Linked DNA regions of Homo sapiens: all the other regions are linked to region 3. Evidence: fine-mapped expression QTL. A gene starts in region 3. Each other region holds a variant in brackets. All regions are shown on one strand. Distances are from middle to middle.

The links. PIP is the estimated chance that this variant, and not a neighbour inherited with it, causes the effect.
Region 1: its variant is the best candidate, but not a certain one, in a credible set for the expression of COL13A1 in whole blood (TOPMed, PIP 0.59).
Region 2: its variant is the best candidate, but not a certain one, in a credible set for the expression of COL13A1 in cerebellum (GTEx, PIP 0.82).

What each region holds. Positions count from the first base shown.
Region 1 is chr10:69,768,128-69,773,346 of GRCh38, reverse strand. No RefSeq gene overlaps it. Among named protein-coding and RNA genes, the nearest start is that of COL13A1, 31 kb to the left of the region's middle. RefSeq lists enhancers at 3,549-4,312, 4,313-5,076, 5,077-5,219. The variant T/C (reference allele first, on the strand shown) is at 2,950.
Region 2 is chr10:69,833,399-69,838,617 of GRCh38, reverse strand. The region is part of intron 2 of COL13A1 (collagen type XIII alpha 1 chain); the gene reads right to left. Among named protein-coding and RNA genes, the nearest start is that of COL13A1, 34 kb to the right of the region's middle. The variant G/A (reference allele first, on the strand shown) is at 1,984.
Region 3 is chr10:69,799,093-69,804,295 of GRCh38, reverse strand. COL13A1 (collagen type XIII alpha 1 chain) reads right to left here and starts at 2,390. Exons shown (of 41, transcript NM_001368882.1): 1 at 1,579-2,390. The coding sequence starts at 1,872. It overlaps LOC124902444 (a long non-coding RNA gene), which reads left to right and starts at 2,525. Exons shown (of 2, transcript XR_007062179.1): 1 at 2,525-3,250; 2 at 4,160-4,433.

The DNA of each region.
Region 1 (5,219 bases), 31 kb after region 3:
ATGTCCTAGCTACTTCCTTGTCCTGGGAGGATGAGAGACACAGTGTCTCTGGGAGCAGAACGTCCCCAGCTGACCCAGAGACCTGCAACAAGAAGCAGCCTAGGGCCTAGCCCCTTGGCCAAGCCCAGCCTGGATTAGTTGAGCCACAGCCAGCCTCCTTGAGAATAACTGATTTTTGTGTTAAGCCACTGAGTTTGGGATCATTTGTTATGCAGCATTATTGAGGCACTAGCTAGCTGATATACCTATCCTGCCAGAAGACCAGGGTAAAGCAGTTAGTAGGTACACAGCGTGGGTTGAGGGCTTAGTATTTGGTTATCAGTTGAGGCTTCCTGGCAGGCGTCATTAAAGAATACTAGAGTATTGGCCCTGGAGGAGCCTCTAAATGAATTTTGGCTGCAGAGACAATCCCAGAGTTGAGCTTTGACTTGTCCTAGGCCACATGGGGGATTTGTGCAGAGCCTACACTAGCACTCAGGGCTAGTGGCTCCTCAAGACAGTAAGCTGACTCTCCACTTCCTATGGACCAGGCTGATGATAACCATGTCTCCCTCTGCTTCCTCCTTGGCCATATGTGTGAGTTTCATGTCATCAAGCTGGAATTTTGACAAATATGAGGTGGTGGCAAGGGAGAAGGAGCAGGAAAAAGGTTTGGCCAGAGACAAGACTCCAGGTGCAAGAAGGGATGTTTTGTCTGTACCCACATTTCCCTTGGGTGCCAAATGCCCCGTGATGGGACCCCCAGCCCAGAGCCCAGGCTTCAGGCCAGCTTCCGCAGTCTCATCTTGGGAGGGAAGCTTGTGCTCAGGTGCCAGAGGCACAATGACTGCCTCACCTGTCACCATTAATGTCTGGCTTCCTTTCATCTCCCAGAAGCCTAGCACAGACAGCCATGGGGATGGACCAGAGGTAGGCTGGGAGAGGTGGGGACTAGAGCTCCAGGAAGGGAGCTGCTGCTCCTTGATGTTTGTGCCTTGCTGATGTCACTCCTGGCTTCAGGGCCTGGAGAGACACCTTTGCACACTCCAGACTTCCTTGGCTCAGAGTGGAATCAGCTTCTGAGGCTCTTACCAGGGGAAGAGGGGGCACAGCCCACCAATCTCCCCACTGTGCTGGGAGCTGGAGAAGAAGGGGGGCCTGGGATATGGATTTAAGGGGTTCTTTGAGTCCACTCTACCAACTCTGGGCAAAAGAGAGTGAAAAAGGCACCAACTGGGGAGTCAGCAGACTGGGATTTTGACCCTAATGTTGCATTTTATTAGCAACTCATGTGACCTTTGGCAGGCAGCTTCCCATATCTGGGCGTCAGTCTTCCATTTTGTAGAATGGCCATAATGGAATAACTGCTCTGGAGGGTGCCTTCAGGCCTGATATCCAGTGATGGCATTGGGGCCGGAATATTTCCTCTATTCCGATGGGAAAATAATAGCTCCTATTTATCCAGCCCTCAATATGTGCCAGGTACTGAACTAAGCCCTTGCACATATTAGCTCTGTTCAGGCTCACAGCAATTCTATGAGGGAAGTATTCTTATTGTCCTCATTTTACAGATGAGGAGACTAAGACTCAGCAAGGCTCAGTAACTCACTTATGGCCACACAGCCTGATGAGAAGCCATGGTTTCAGACAAGGCTGTCTGACTCCACAGCCTGCCCTCCTAACCTCTCTGTTGTGCTCTAGTGAGAAAGCTCTTTCTCTGGTCTCTTCCTTCCAAGATCCCATGCTCCTTCCAAGACCCCCCCCCTCCCTGTGCACTTCCACAGTCAAAAAAACCTCCAGGCTTTAGGCTGGAAGAACTCAAGATGTCTGAAAGAAATCCCTTCAACAATGGAGATAAATGCAATCTAACCCATCATCCTTTCTATACTGGCCTCCCCCATGAGGCCAGTCCCGCCCCAGTGCATGATGCTAGGAGAGATGGAAGGTGGTCCCTGCCATCAGGATGATATGCTGATAGCCTGGCTGGGAACCTAAGACTGACCCTGGGCAGTCTGGTTCCTCACCCAGCTTTGGACCTGGGGGGCCCACTACAGTGCCTGACATGCAGTAGGTGCCCAGTGAGTGCTTGTTGATTGCACTTTGGTGAGATGGAATAAGCAGCTATGGGCTACGGCTGGCAAAGGTGCAGCATTGCTCTCTCTAGGCTGGAAACCTTTGCTTTGCCCCTCTGAGCTGCCATAGCTCAGGAAACAGGGAGGCACCAACACCCTGAAGAGGAAGTGCCTCTGGGCATCCAACTCACTGAAGTTGAGCCACAAGTGCGAGAGGAGATCTTCTCACCAGCACCCCTTTCCTGGAAAACCCTCTACTTTCTCCCTTGAGGTCAACAGGCTGTTTGCACCCATGATCCCTTAATGAGCTGGCCATGAAGTCTGAAGGTCTGGGTGAACAACGCTAAAATGCTGCTTGGAAAGGGGAGGCACGCCGTGGAGAAACGGGTGGATGTCCAAGCCCTTCTTCCTGAATCAGGCTTGACTGTCCTTTAGGGTCAAGAAAACCCCTTTGATTTCATAGTCCAGGCATGGTGGGGACAGGGTCACAGAGACCAACCACTGTTTGGTATGATTGGCTAGAGATGGGGACACAGCACCAACCTCACCACCACTAATGAGCTGCATGACCTTTCCTGCCCATCAGGAACAGGAAGTCAAGGCCCTACGTCGCTCTGGAGGCTGTGAACTCAAATGTGACAAAATAGGAGAATTGCTAGGAGAAGAAGCCAAGTGCTGTATAGAGGCTGGGCAGGACTGGGACAGCTGGTTCTGAGGAGGCTTGCCCTGAGAATCCCAAACATATGCCCTCGGGTCAGACATGGAACCTCCCTGAGCCTCTGTTCCCATTTCTTCATTTGTTGGTTCATTCATTCATTCAATAGCAAGTCACTAGTGACTCAGACAAGGGCATGCTTGCTATACCAATCTGGGCAGCAGTGAGGCTGTGGGGTGCCCA[T/C]GTGGTATTTTGCTGTGTGATCTTGGTCAGGTCATTTCCCATCTCTAAGCCTTACAACCTCCAGCCTTGCAGGGTCATAAGACCCTGGAATCAGCCCACCTGTGCTGCAAACAACCTGGTTCCAGAGGCTGCGTAGTGTGGTGGGAAAGCAAGCTCTCCAGAAGCGGCAGGTGCGGATCCCTCTCCCAGCGCTGCCTCTTGCTCCAACCGGTTCTGAGTGTCCATTCTCTCTCTGGGGGTTGTGAGAATTCCTTTACTGCAGGAACAGCACTTGGGAGGTACCTGGTACCTAGTCAGTGCTTGATAAGACTTAGCTCTGTCTTTCACAGAATTCGCTCTTCATGAGAAAATAAACTTGCTGAGCTCTGGTTTATGTTGGTCTTGCAAAGCCTTGGTTTCATTCAGGGCGGTGTTGGCCCACCCTGAGTCTGAGGATGCCGTGTCCAGCTCCTCCTCTGCCTTTTCTGGATCTTCCCCCTCATGCAACCCCCAACCTCCACGAAAGGTCCATGCCTTCCTTGGGGTCCCTTGCTCTGTGAAATGCAGCGTCCTCATGCTCTGTTTCTTCTTCTCATTCAAACCTGCCATTGGAAAAGGGCTGGATGACTCATTTATATCAAAGAGTAAATGATTGATATGGCTGGGGCTTTTTCCTTGCAGGGGGCTACGTTTTGGAAGAAAACAAAGCCATAAATGGGCTGAGTGATTATGACAGTCCTTTGGGCATCGATGTGCAAAGGAGAGCTCTTTGTGGGTTGGAGGAACCTATCTGGAGGGGGCCCAAGAGTCCTGGGACACCAAGGCTGTTGCTGCAAATCGGCACAGCAGGGCGTCCTGGCAGTGACTCACCCTGGCAGGAATGCAGTGAGCTCCAGGCAGCCTCAGCCCTCCCCTCTGGCCTCTCTTGGACCTTCCTTCTGGTAGTACATCTGGACCCCAAAAGGCAGCTGTTTTGGGGGCTCCGCGGAACCCACAGACCTTCCCTGACTCAGCCCAGTTCCCACCCCCACTGGCCTTGCAGCTCCGTTTGTCCCTTTGCTCAGATCCCAGCTTCTAGGAGTTTCCTGGGATTTGGGAACAAGATGGCCTGATTTGTTCTAAGAGCGTTTTTGTTTATATTCCCTGGTTCTTTCTACTCTTGGGGGAAAGGAAGAAAATAAAAGAAAAAAAAGGGAGGGAGGGAGGAAGGGAAGAAAGGGAGGAGAGAAACTTGTGCTTTGACCAAAGAATTGAAATGGGATTTTCCCCTTTTTCCTTCTTCTTCATTTTTCTCCCCAGCAGCAAACTACCAGACTCAGAAATGGAAGAGTGGGGATGCCTTTGGCTTCCGGACGAGCCAAGGATGGCAGCTCTGCCTGGTAGGAGCGAGGGCCACCAGACCTCAGGGGCAAGACCTGGGCTTCCTGTCCTTCATCCCAGGGGAGTGTCTTGGGGGACAAGCTGACAAGGCCAGGAAGCGTCAGCATGTGGGTCTTCCCGGACCCCTCACCCACCACGCCGAAGTGTTTCATCACCCCCTTGCTCTCATACCTCACTTTTCATTCCATGCTGCACTCCCAAAATCAGAGAAGAGGAGGAAGAAGAAAAGGACAGGATGCCCACCACAGCCCCCATTCCATTTTCTTCTCACCCTGCATTATTCTCTGACATCGTGTTGTTGGTTTATTTGTGTATTCCTGTCTCCCCTCACCAGAACGTGACCCCAAGAGGGAGAGATGGGGTCTTTCTCATGCATTGGGTCGCCACGGCACCCATGGCCCAACTCTGGGACTCAGTGGATGCCAGGAGAGCAAGAGGAGGTGAGCTTACTCATCACCCTCAGCCTGCTGCAGCCACCAGCAGCCCTGGAAGCTCCAGTCTCCAGATTCCCTGCCCACACATGCACCATATGCACTCATGTGCATACATCCACATCCTTGTGTGCACATTCACACACACACATGCGCATTCACACACATGCATGTGTGCCCTCACACATACATTCACATGCACACACATACACACATGTCCACGTGTACACTCCATGCACACGCTCACAGGACCATGTTGAGAGGGGCTCTATGTCTCAGAGCCTCTGAGATGAGCGAGGGAACCCGAGGCCAGAGCCCTCAGCCCCCAGCCTTTGCCTGAAGAAGAGGAGAGTGACTCAGTTCTGCCTTCGTTGGGGTCCCTTAGCTCAAGGACAGAAGGTGCAGAGCCACCTGAGCTGCCAGGCCCCTCCCGAGAGTCTGACCAGCTGGAGGCTGAGGACGTGAGAGGCGGTGGTGGTG
Region 2 (5,219 bases), 34 kb before region 3:
GTTTCAGAGGCTCAGGAGGAAGGGCAATGTGGGTGGTCAAGAGAGTCCTGGCCTGCGGTTCAGGAGAGCTGAGTACCAGCAGCTCAATACCACTGATTAAACTCCTCCCCATGCCAGGTACTGTACCACGTGCTTTACATACATCTCCTTCATCTCAGGACAGCATGGAGGTAGAGGTTGTCATGATCCCTATCTTAGAGGTAAGAAAGCTGCAGCTCAGAGATGTCAAGTCACTTGCCCATTGTAACACAGTTGGATCCCAGAACTCAGCCAGCAGATAATCCTGCCACTTTGTTAGTCTAGGTGTTTCCAGCATTGGCTGGGTGACCCTAGAAGAACCCCTTGCCTTCTCTCGGCCTTAGGCTCTGTCTCTAAAGCCCAGGCTCCTACCAGATCCTGTCTAGGCCTGTATAGCTTTGACACAAGTGGGACCGGGAAGGCACAAGGCTGTGGCTGCTGCTGTCTCCTGTGGCCCCTTGAGGAGGGGGCTGCCTGGATGCCTTGGAGCAGGCGCAGACCTTGCCCTGCCCAAGGCACTGTGGGTGGAATGTCCAGGGGTGACCAACCCACAGGGCCCTGGCCTCCTGTGTTCACTGGGTGACAAGACCAGGATGGCCACAGCACTGGAGAAGGGCTGGGAGATCTTGGAGCTTCCCAAGATTGAGAAAGTGGCTCGTCACATCACAGGGGGCTTTTAAGGTGGGCAAATGCTCTGAGGAACATCCAGCCCCACTACAGTGCCACTAAAATGAACATCAGAAATTGGCCCCAGCTTCAGCTTCCTTTGGATAATGAAATCTGTCTTCTTCTCTGCGTTTATTTATTTATTTGGCAGGATCGCCGTTCCACGGGAACATGATCCCACTGCCTTAAGGGGCCACTCCACAAGGGGGACAACATGGAGGATGATGAAGCAGGAGGGTCAAGGCCCACTTCCAGCTCCCCAGGGATTCTGCCACCCTCCACAGAAGTGAGGAGAAGAGGCAGTGGGAAAATGTACCAGGGTAAGCGCAGAAGAGGCTGGATCTGACTTCATCCCTAGAAATAGTTGTGTGGTGGGTGGTGGCTTCAGGGTCCAATCAGTTTCTGTGGCAGCATCTTTTGCTGTCTTTTAATGAACAGCAGGGGTGTCACCTGTCAGGAAGGACAGGCTGTCTAATGGACAGATGAATCCGGAACCAGGTGCCCAGCTTGGCTGTAGCTCTTGGCCTCAGAAGGCGTCAGGAGTCTGTGGCATTGGCTGACACACCAGTGCCTCTGAGTGCCAATGAGCAAAGAATGATACAGCTGGAGCTGATGTGGTCAAGCATTTGGAACTAGAACCGTACAGAGACCCACCAATCAGAACCGACACCAGCCAGGATCATTGGTAAGGTCCCCCATGGGATGCTGATGGGGCCTCATTGTCCAGATTCCCGAACACCCCGAGGGAAAGTAAGTTCTTTGTTGAGAAGGACTCACATCCAGGTTCTAAGCCTATAGGAAAATGAAGAGGACATTCAGGCTGTCAAAGCTCTTGGGCCCTGGGCACCCTGGAGCCGGAGCCCTGGCATGGAGACCCCTCCATGACCACAAACAGGCAGGTCTCGGGAACACACGGCACAGCTGCCCAGTACCTGCTGCCCCTGGGAGGTTGGGACCCGCCCCACCCTCCCTCCGGCCTGTCATGGTATGCCAGGTCACCCCGTGACAGCTCACATAACTACATGGGAAGCTGGCATCCACTTATACCCCCACCGCCTGCTGGGCATCTTTCTGTGGCAGGCATTTCCTCCCCAGTTGGGGTTTAAAGAGGAAGGCAGGCACTGAGGGAGCCTCTGCCCATACTTGGTCCTCATTCTAGCTCCAGGAGGCTCCCCAGGGTCTCCATGAGGCTGAGGAGCCAGCCTGCCAAGGATGTAGCTCTGTGTGCCCCAGGTTTGCCCATCTCCAGCTCTTGTCAGCCACACACCTTGCCTACTGGAGACATTCCAACAGTGCCCT[G/A]CCTGGTGTACCTGCCACACAGACAGATGGCAAAGGCTGGAGGGGTGGGAGGAAGTGAGTTTGTGAAGTGAGCTGGAAAGAGAATGAGCAGCTGGAGCTCTGACCCTCCCCTCCCTCCCCTGCTTATATGTGCATAGCCAGCTCCCCTTTGCATGGTAGGAGGGCCTCTCACCAGGAAGCCGAGTCAGCTGAGCTCTGGGGTCCCTTCTGAGTCCCAGATCTGATGTCTCAGGGCCAAATGCCAGCTGCACAAGCCACCAACAGTGTGGTTCTAGACCTGTGTCCCTGCCTTGGCCCCGCCTTGATTGGGGCCGGCCTCCCAGGGCTGGAATCCTGGAGGATGCGGCCCTGGGACTGTAGCCCACACTGGGCACCGCCTAGCCCCACCGGAGCCCTGGGTCTCTGCAGCAGCCACTGAGTTACCCGTGTGTTTCCCCTTCCTGGACTGTGGGCTCTTCTCTGTCTCCTGAGGATGGGGCATGGCACAGAACCAGTGCTCAAAAACTGTTTGGTGGGGAGTGAGGGAGTGAGAGAGAGAGATAGCTAGAGGTTGGCAGGGGGAGCTTCTGATGCTGCTCTGGTTTGCCCAGACTCAGACTACTTAAATTCTGGCTTCAACACACACTAGCTCTGTGGCCTTGGCCCCGTTACAGAACTTCTTTGGGCCCCAGTCTTCTATGGAAATGGAGATAATAATAGTACCTGCCACATAAAGTAATTATGAGGATCAAATGAGACAATGCAATAAAGTGCTTATCACAGTGCCAGGCGCAGAGTAAGCCCTTAATAGATGTTGTTGTTATCATTACTAATTAATGTCCTCCAGCCTTATCTGACTCCATGCTCCCTGGACAAGCATCACGGCCACTGCCGAGTCCTCGGTTTCCCACTGTGCTCCAGGGTAGCACTTGGGTCCCTGGGGGGCATTTGCCTTCTGATGTTTCAGAGCTTATTTCCAGTCCCAACCCTGCCACTGCCTAACCCTGTATCCTCGAGCAAAGAATTCTGAGCTTCAGGGTCCTCATCAGGAGAATAGGGCAGTGTGAGTCGTAACCTGGAGAGCTGGTGGGAGGGTGCAGTGAAGAGGGCCAGGTGTGTGGGGACAAGAGTGCCACTGCCAGCAGAGGCCACCCAAGTCGCCTTAGTGGCTGAACAGGAACTTGCCAGGGAGTAACAGGGGAGAGGCTGGCTGGGTTATGACAAGAGTGGGGGTAGTCATCGAGGGAGTGGGCAGCCTGGGTGGGTCCAGGAGGAAGAGCCAGGGACTGCATCCATGGGTCTGGCATGTCCCACCTTCTAGTCTCTTATAACTGCCCAAGCAGAGGTCGCGGGCTCTTCCCACTTGCTGCTCCTTTCCTCCAAAGGAGCATCTGGCATTCCTTTAGCGTCACTGTGGCAGAACCTTCTCCTTCAGGGCAGAGCAGGTGGTGGCAAGATCAAGGGACCCTCCACTGGGTCTAGGGCAGGGAGCTCATCTGCCCCCAGCAGCCTGGGACAAGCTGCACAGCACCCATGTGTGCTGCGGGCAGGATTGTGAGTCCTGGGTGAAGGGGCACAGGGCCCTGGGCTCTGGGCATGTCCTGGGGCAGAAAGTCTCCCACCTCAGTGCTTCTAGCCAGCTCTCCAGCAAGATGCACTCCTGTTCTCTCTCTTCTGTGAGTAGTGTTGCTGGCAGGTGGCTACAGGTAAGGCCACTTCCCTGAGCATTGTCCCCAGACGATGGCTACAGGTAAGGTCTTTCTTCTCTAAGTCCACAAGCTCAGAATGGGCTTCTAGCCCCTCTCCCTCTGGACGAACTGTTCCAGGGCCCTCAGCATTTCCATGAGGCATCCTGCATCCCCCACCTCCCAACCTCCAGCTTGTCCCAAACAGAACTTTGACCCTTCCTCTCCAACCTACCCCCCTTCTGCTCTGCCTTGTCCGGAGGGCAAAGGCGCTGGCATTGAAAGTCCTGGGTTCAAGTCCTGCCTCTGTCCCTTATCCGTGGACCTCAGGCAAACCCTGAACATCTCTGAGCCTCAGTTTCTTCATTTTTGAAATGTGGATAGCCATAGCCTTACATCATAGGGTGCTTGATCAGAATGTAAGTGATATTGTATTTAAAGCACAAGGCCCAAGGTCATCTGTTGAATATATGCCATGGTTATTATTAGTTACCTGGGCTCAGAGGCTCATAATTGCCTCAACCCCTCCTTGGCCCACACCTAGTAGGTAGCTAGAACTTGCTAATGTTACCTCTGCAACCTCCCTCTCGTTACTCCCCTCACCTGCTTCCTCTGCTTCTCTGTGTCTTCTCTTAGAGCGGGGGTCCCCAAGCACTGGGCCATAGATCTGGACTGGACTGTGACCTGTTAAGAACCAGGCCTCACAGCAGGAGGTCAGCGGTGGCAATAGATTCTCACAGGACCCCAAACCCTATTGCAGACTGCGCATGCGAGGGATCTAGGTTGCAGGTTCCTTGTGAGAATTGAACTAATGTCTGCTGATCTGAGGTGGAACAATTTCATCCTGAAGTCATCCCCCCATCCCCATACATGGAAAAACTGGCCACTGGTCCCAAAAAGACTGGGGACTGCTGCCTTAGAGAGATCATTGCTGCCCATTCCCAGCTTCTCTCCTGCCCCTAATTCACCCTCTACACTGAGCTATACACAGCTGGATACATCACATCCCTCTGAGAAACCTTCCGTGGTTTCCTGCTACCCACCAAATAGAAGCTGGCTTTCAGGGTGGTGTCCAACTCCCTCCACGGTCTGCCTCCCCAACCCCCAACTTTTCTTTCCAGCCGTACCTCCTACTCCATCCCTCCGCAGGAGCTTACTACAACCGCTCCAGATCATTCCTCATTTCCCAGAGTGGGGTGTGGGGTGTGGGGGTGTGTGTGGAAAAAACACAGTTGTTCAGGTCTCTATTCTTTATTATGTTGTTTCATTGTTTTAAAATGTCCTCATGCACATTCTCATTTACTGAAATCTTACTTGCCATTCAGGGATTCCTTCAAATGCCACTTCTTCCATGCAGCCATTTCTGATTCCTCCCTTCAGGAGTAGTCACTCCTTTTCTTGCATTTCCCAAACTAGATGCCTATGCTTCTGTTTAGCACTTGCCCAGCCCTGAACCAAGGAACTTTGCCTGATCACCTTGCATCCCACGGCACTGAACACAGGGCCTGGAGCAGCCCTCTACCCGCAGGTGGACCCAGGCTGCTTGTTGATGTAGTTCATGTTCATCCTGGA
Region 3 (5,203 bases):
GAGAGAGGGGCTGTGCTAAACCCTGAAAATCAGATGCTTATCCCTCAGCAGCCAGGACCCCCGAGATACCTGGAGGAGCTCTCACTGCCCTGACACCTTCTTCACCACCCAGCCAGTCTGGGCTCATTCTGCCTGAGCCCAGAGATGCTGCACCTCCACCCCAGGCCCAGGGAACCATGGACGGCCCGATGGAGTTCTCCGGATTCCCTGGAGCCTGGCAGGGCGTGGGAATGAGCTGACAGCAGCAGTCATGGGTGCACCACTAGCACCAGTACGCTTGCCCTGTGACCGCTCTCTCTGCTCTGGCCCTGCAATCTCCTCCTTGGCCACCCTGGAGAACTGCTCCAGCAGGTGCCAGCCTGGCAGGGGCAGCTGAGAAGAGCCTGGCTATAGGGAATAGGTACATCTTGCCAAAATGCTCACAGCACCCCACCCACCACAGTTAGAGCTGTGCTCCAGTGTTTGCTACATCAGCACTGTTTCGCATGTTCAGAGGGGTTGGAGCGTTTGTCCCAAGCTTCCAAGTAGCAGAGTGGGGATAAAAACCCAGGGTTGCTGGCCTCTACCACCGTGATCTTTACTGCTGCACACTCCCTCCAGCTAAGTAAGATATCCTCTCCCATTTCTTCCCCATGGAAACCTTCCATGGCCAGGACCTTCCATGGCCAGGACCTGCTCCAGGACCTCTTCCCAGACTGCTGCGGCCCCCACCTGCCTGTCCTCCTCTCTATCTGGGCCCTGAATCCCCTGTGCTGTCCAGATTCCCACAGATCATCAAGCCTCACCCTGTCAAGGCCCAGCCTTTCCTCTGGTGGCACAAAGAGGCTGCATGTCCCTCCTTCCTGGGGAGGGGACAGCCTTTTCCTGTATTCCGAAGATTGCCATAGCTACCTGACACGCTAGTAGTGTTTAATCTACTTGGATCAAAAAAATTTGGAGAATGGAAGAAAGCATCCTTTCTCCAGAAAAATAAGAAACCTGGTTTAGGAAAAAGAAGGTGTGGACTAATTTGTGGCCAAGGACAGCAGAGCCAGGCGACCCACACTTGGACCCTAGCGGCCTGGGCCAGTGAGCAGAGACCAGGGCACCACCCCCTGCAAGAACTGTCCCCTCTCCCCGCACCCCCCGGGTCCTTAAGGGGTGGAGGGGGAGGGCCATGGGGGCTCAGTAAGCCTCGGCCTGGGCCTCTGGGCGCGCTTGCCGCTGCGCGGGCGCGGGGCGGCTGTCACACCACCCTGGCCGGGTCCCGAAAGGGAGGAGTGGAGCTTGCCCGCCTCCGCGAGCCTCCGCGCGCCCAGCCTTCCTCCACCTGCCCGGCGTGCCCAGGGCGCTCCCAGCGCTGGAAGCCGGGGGCGCTTGCCCGAGGCGGGAGTCGCTGGGTCATGCTCTTGCCCACCAGGTCCTCCGAATCCCTGGTAGGGCAGCGTCTGTCCGTGTCCCCGACCCCTCCCGCAGGCAACTCGCGCGAACCTGGGGCTCGCAGAGAGCGAGCGCCCGCGGACACCGGCTGAACAGTCTGGAGGCTGCGCGAGGGGGCGCCGCGGGGAGGGATAAAAGCCAGCAACAAAGAGCACAGACCTCGTCCAGCAGTTGATTGACTCGTCCCAAAATAGCCGTCTCCATTTGCTGCTCCCCGCGCTCCGCTTCCAGGCGCAGCACCCGGGCCTGCAGCTCGGCCGTCCGAAAGTGGGCGAGCAGGCTGAGTGCCAGCGAGCAGAGGGCCAGCGTCAGCAGCCCGCACGACCCTGGACTCGGCAGCCGTGCGCCGCGCTCCGCCCGCGCCGCCACCAGAGCCACCGTCCCGGGCGCGCCCAACTCCCCAGGGCCGCGGGCACCGGTGGCTGCCGCTTTGTGGGTGCGCTCCGCTACCATCCTCTCGCGTCTTGAGAACCAATAAATAAATAAATAGAATAAATAAAGGCGACAGCCGCTGCCAAAAGGCTCTATCCAAACTGCGGGGCAGGGGGAAAGGGCTTGTATCGCTGGAAAACGTCCCTTTCCGCTGCTCCCGGCAAAGAGGACGGAAAAATTAGCAGTAGGAGAGGAAGTGCCGAAAAAGCACAACCAGCGGTAATTGGGGTACACCTAGGTGAGAAAAAAGTTATTTCGAAGAACGTTCCAAGTCCAGGAAAGTTAGGGGAATCTGACCGGCTCTCCTTCTCTCCGCCCAGTCTTTCCCTTCAAGTGTCTGCAGAGCAGTTGGTGCCGCGCTGTCAGTCCTTCTGGGCGCCTCGTGTCTCCCGGGCCAGTCAGTTTCAGTCCCCGGGCGAAGGGGCGCACACGGAGGGCCCCATGGGCAGAGGTGGGTCGTGGCGGCTGGCGAGGAGCGCAGGGGCCGATTCCGGCGCCTCTGTAACTTGACACACTCCCTGCGGCGGCACGGATCGGATGAGCAATCCGTGCTACTTCCCAAACTAATCTCTCCCTCCCCCCTCCCTCCTCCTCCTCCTCCTCGTCACTCCTCCTCCACCTCCCGCGGGGCCGACGGCTTGGATTTGTTTATTTATGCAAACTCGCCCAGGGTGGGGGGCGTGGTGAGCAGGTCCGGCGGCCCCAGCCCGCCGGCCCGGGAGCCCCTCTGCCGCGCTCCCCGTCCTCTTTGAAGTGACACTTGGGGTTATTTATAGGCAGGAAGGGGGTGTGGAGTGGAGCTGGCGCTGCACTTCCCTCTCTTTCTCCGGATTCACACCGAGGGCTCGTTTGGCCTTCCACGGAGGCGGTGAGGCGGGCACCACCTTCCATGGACGCGTTGGGGCAGGCACCACTCCACCTTTCCCAGCCCTTGAGACCCTCCAGGAACTCGACTGAGTTATTGTCAGGGCTTGTGGGTGGATCTCCACGTCCTGATCAGGACTACCTGATCCCTTCAGCCACCGCTCCTCTACTCCCAAGCCCCCAACCTCTTTCCCCTTCCTTCTCCCCCGACAACCGACTCCCCGGGGGCTCTGTACCTCCTGAGATCTGCAGCTCCTCCAGTGCCGGGCGGCCAACCACATCTTTACTCTGGGGTGAAAAGTCAGCCCTCCAGGGGGCAGCAGAGCTGGCAGCCCTTCCTCTCAGGACCAAGACCTGAGGTAGTATGAGACACTGAAAACGGAGGAGATCTTATTCCAGGTATCTGAGAGGTGGCTCATTGGGGCCGCCTGCCAGTCCTGACATCTCCCCTTCTTGCCTGCCATTAATCTGAGACCCATGCCATCTATCCCTGTGTGGTGAGACCAGCCTGCCTCAATCATCCCAGTCATCAAAGGTGAGCAATTCCTACACAAACTCAGGTTCCATCCCTGCGGGAGGCTTAGGGCTAACCAGGCTCTCTCCTGTTGTCATTTCCTATATTCCACTAGAGAAAAACTGGTGGCCTGAAGGGCATTTGGTAGTTTTCTCTCTTCTCTTGTCACCTCCTCCACCCCCCACATTAAGTAGCATTTGTATCCCAAGAGACTTTATCTCCTTGTGCCTGTTGACATTCCTGTGAATGAGGTGGTGGGACTGAGTTTTTGGGAGAAAGCCTGTCTTCCTGGAACAGCGGGCAGAGGAGAGTAGACTGGGTTTTCAAATATGCAGTGGAGGTGGGGGCAGCAGTGGTGCTGGGATTCCATTTCAAAATAACAAGGCATGCCAGTACAAACTTCCCATTTTCTATATTGACCTGATGGAACTTGATATATAATACAGTGTCACTGCACTTCTAATAAAGTGTGGCACACTTAATAGTGCATATTGGACTTGTAACATAGTAAGTACTGAGATCATATGTAATAAAGGTAACATTGACTGCTGGGCCAGTCAGCCACTATGGAGGACAACAGGAATAGAAGGCGATGCTGCTGAAAGAGCCCGTGGCCAGGAGCTCTGGGTTCCAGTTCCAGTTCTAGGATTCTCCTGATGGCTTCAGTGGCAAGGGCACTCTGTTTTCTCCATCCCTGTGATGGGATGTCCCAGTCCACTCTACAGAGGAATGAATCCTTGGGAGACTTGGATGGTATTGAAGAACACCAGGGGGCGTTGGAGAGTTTCTGCACTGGGAGGTACAGGCCAGGAAATTCAGGGACTTTGGACTTCCCCCACTCCCCTCCCAGGCTAGTCTGAATGGAGGAACTGAGGTGGGGAGTTAGTTTCATTCCCTCCTTATTCTGCAAACTGATCTTTTCCCTTTCAGGACTTTGGAGGCCCTCAGGAATGCTCAGGCAGTGAAATCTAAACAGTTTGGAGCTGGAGCATCCTTGTGATTGGGAACTGAAAGAGGAGGGTGTTGCGCTAGCCTGACCTGGCCCCAGCATTGCAAACCCTGGAGCTTCCAGGGGGACTCTGGAGTCAGAGAAACCTGGGTGTAAATCTCCCTTTTGTCAATGTGGAAGCTGCTGAACATCTCGGAGGCTCAGTTTTCTCATTTGTAAGATGGGCTGATAATAAAAGTATCTACCCGTCTGGAAGGACTGAATGAGGTAATGTATGTAAAGCAGTGAACACAGTGCTGGCACAGGGCAGGCACTCAATAAAGGGCATCGGCTCCTTCTTTGGAATTCATGGCTGCTAGGGCCATCTCAGACACAGCTAGCTCTGGGCTCCCAGTTGTGAAACAGGAAGAAGTTTCCATCCCAGAGAAAGCAAATGGATCACAGTTAACCTCCATTTTTTCCCTACCTGACAGCTGAGAGTAGCAGCTTGTGAGCAGCAGGAGTTAGCTTGTGTTGAGGGGCCTGATCCCCAGGTATCCCTCTTCTTCTTCCCACACTGCTTAGAATTCTTGCCCTGGGAGATTTTTCTTTCAGGTAGAGCATTGTCTACCCCAGGCACAAGTTACAGCCTCATGTGGCTTATCTTGAACCCTTCTTTCTTCATAGGTGGGGGCCAGGACCTGGGGACACTGAGGTGAAAAGAGTGCCTTCCAGGAGCTTTAAAAACAGTTGATTAAGGAAGACAAGTCATGTTCACATAAAACCGCCACAAAAGGCAGAATAGCGAAAATCCACAAAACATGTAAAGACCACAAAAGGTGCTTCAGGGCTCCCAGAAGAAAGGGGGGGGATTCAGATGCCTCAAGAAAAACACCAGGAAATAGATTTTCTTGTTTGCAGTAAGAAGAAAGAGGGCCTCCAATGCTAACCCAAAGACTTTGATTTTAAACTGTGGTCTTGGTTACACACCTAGACAAAAATGAAGAAAAAATGCCCCAGGCATACAGCCTCTACTGTTCTTCAAG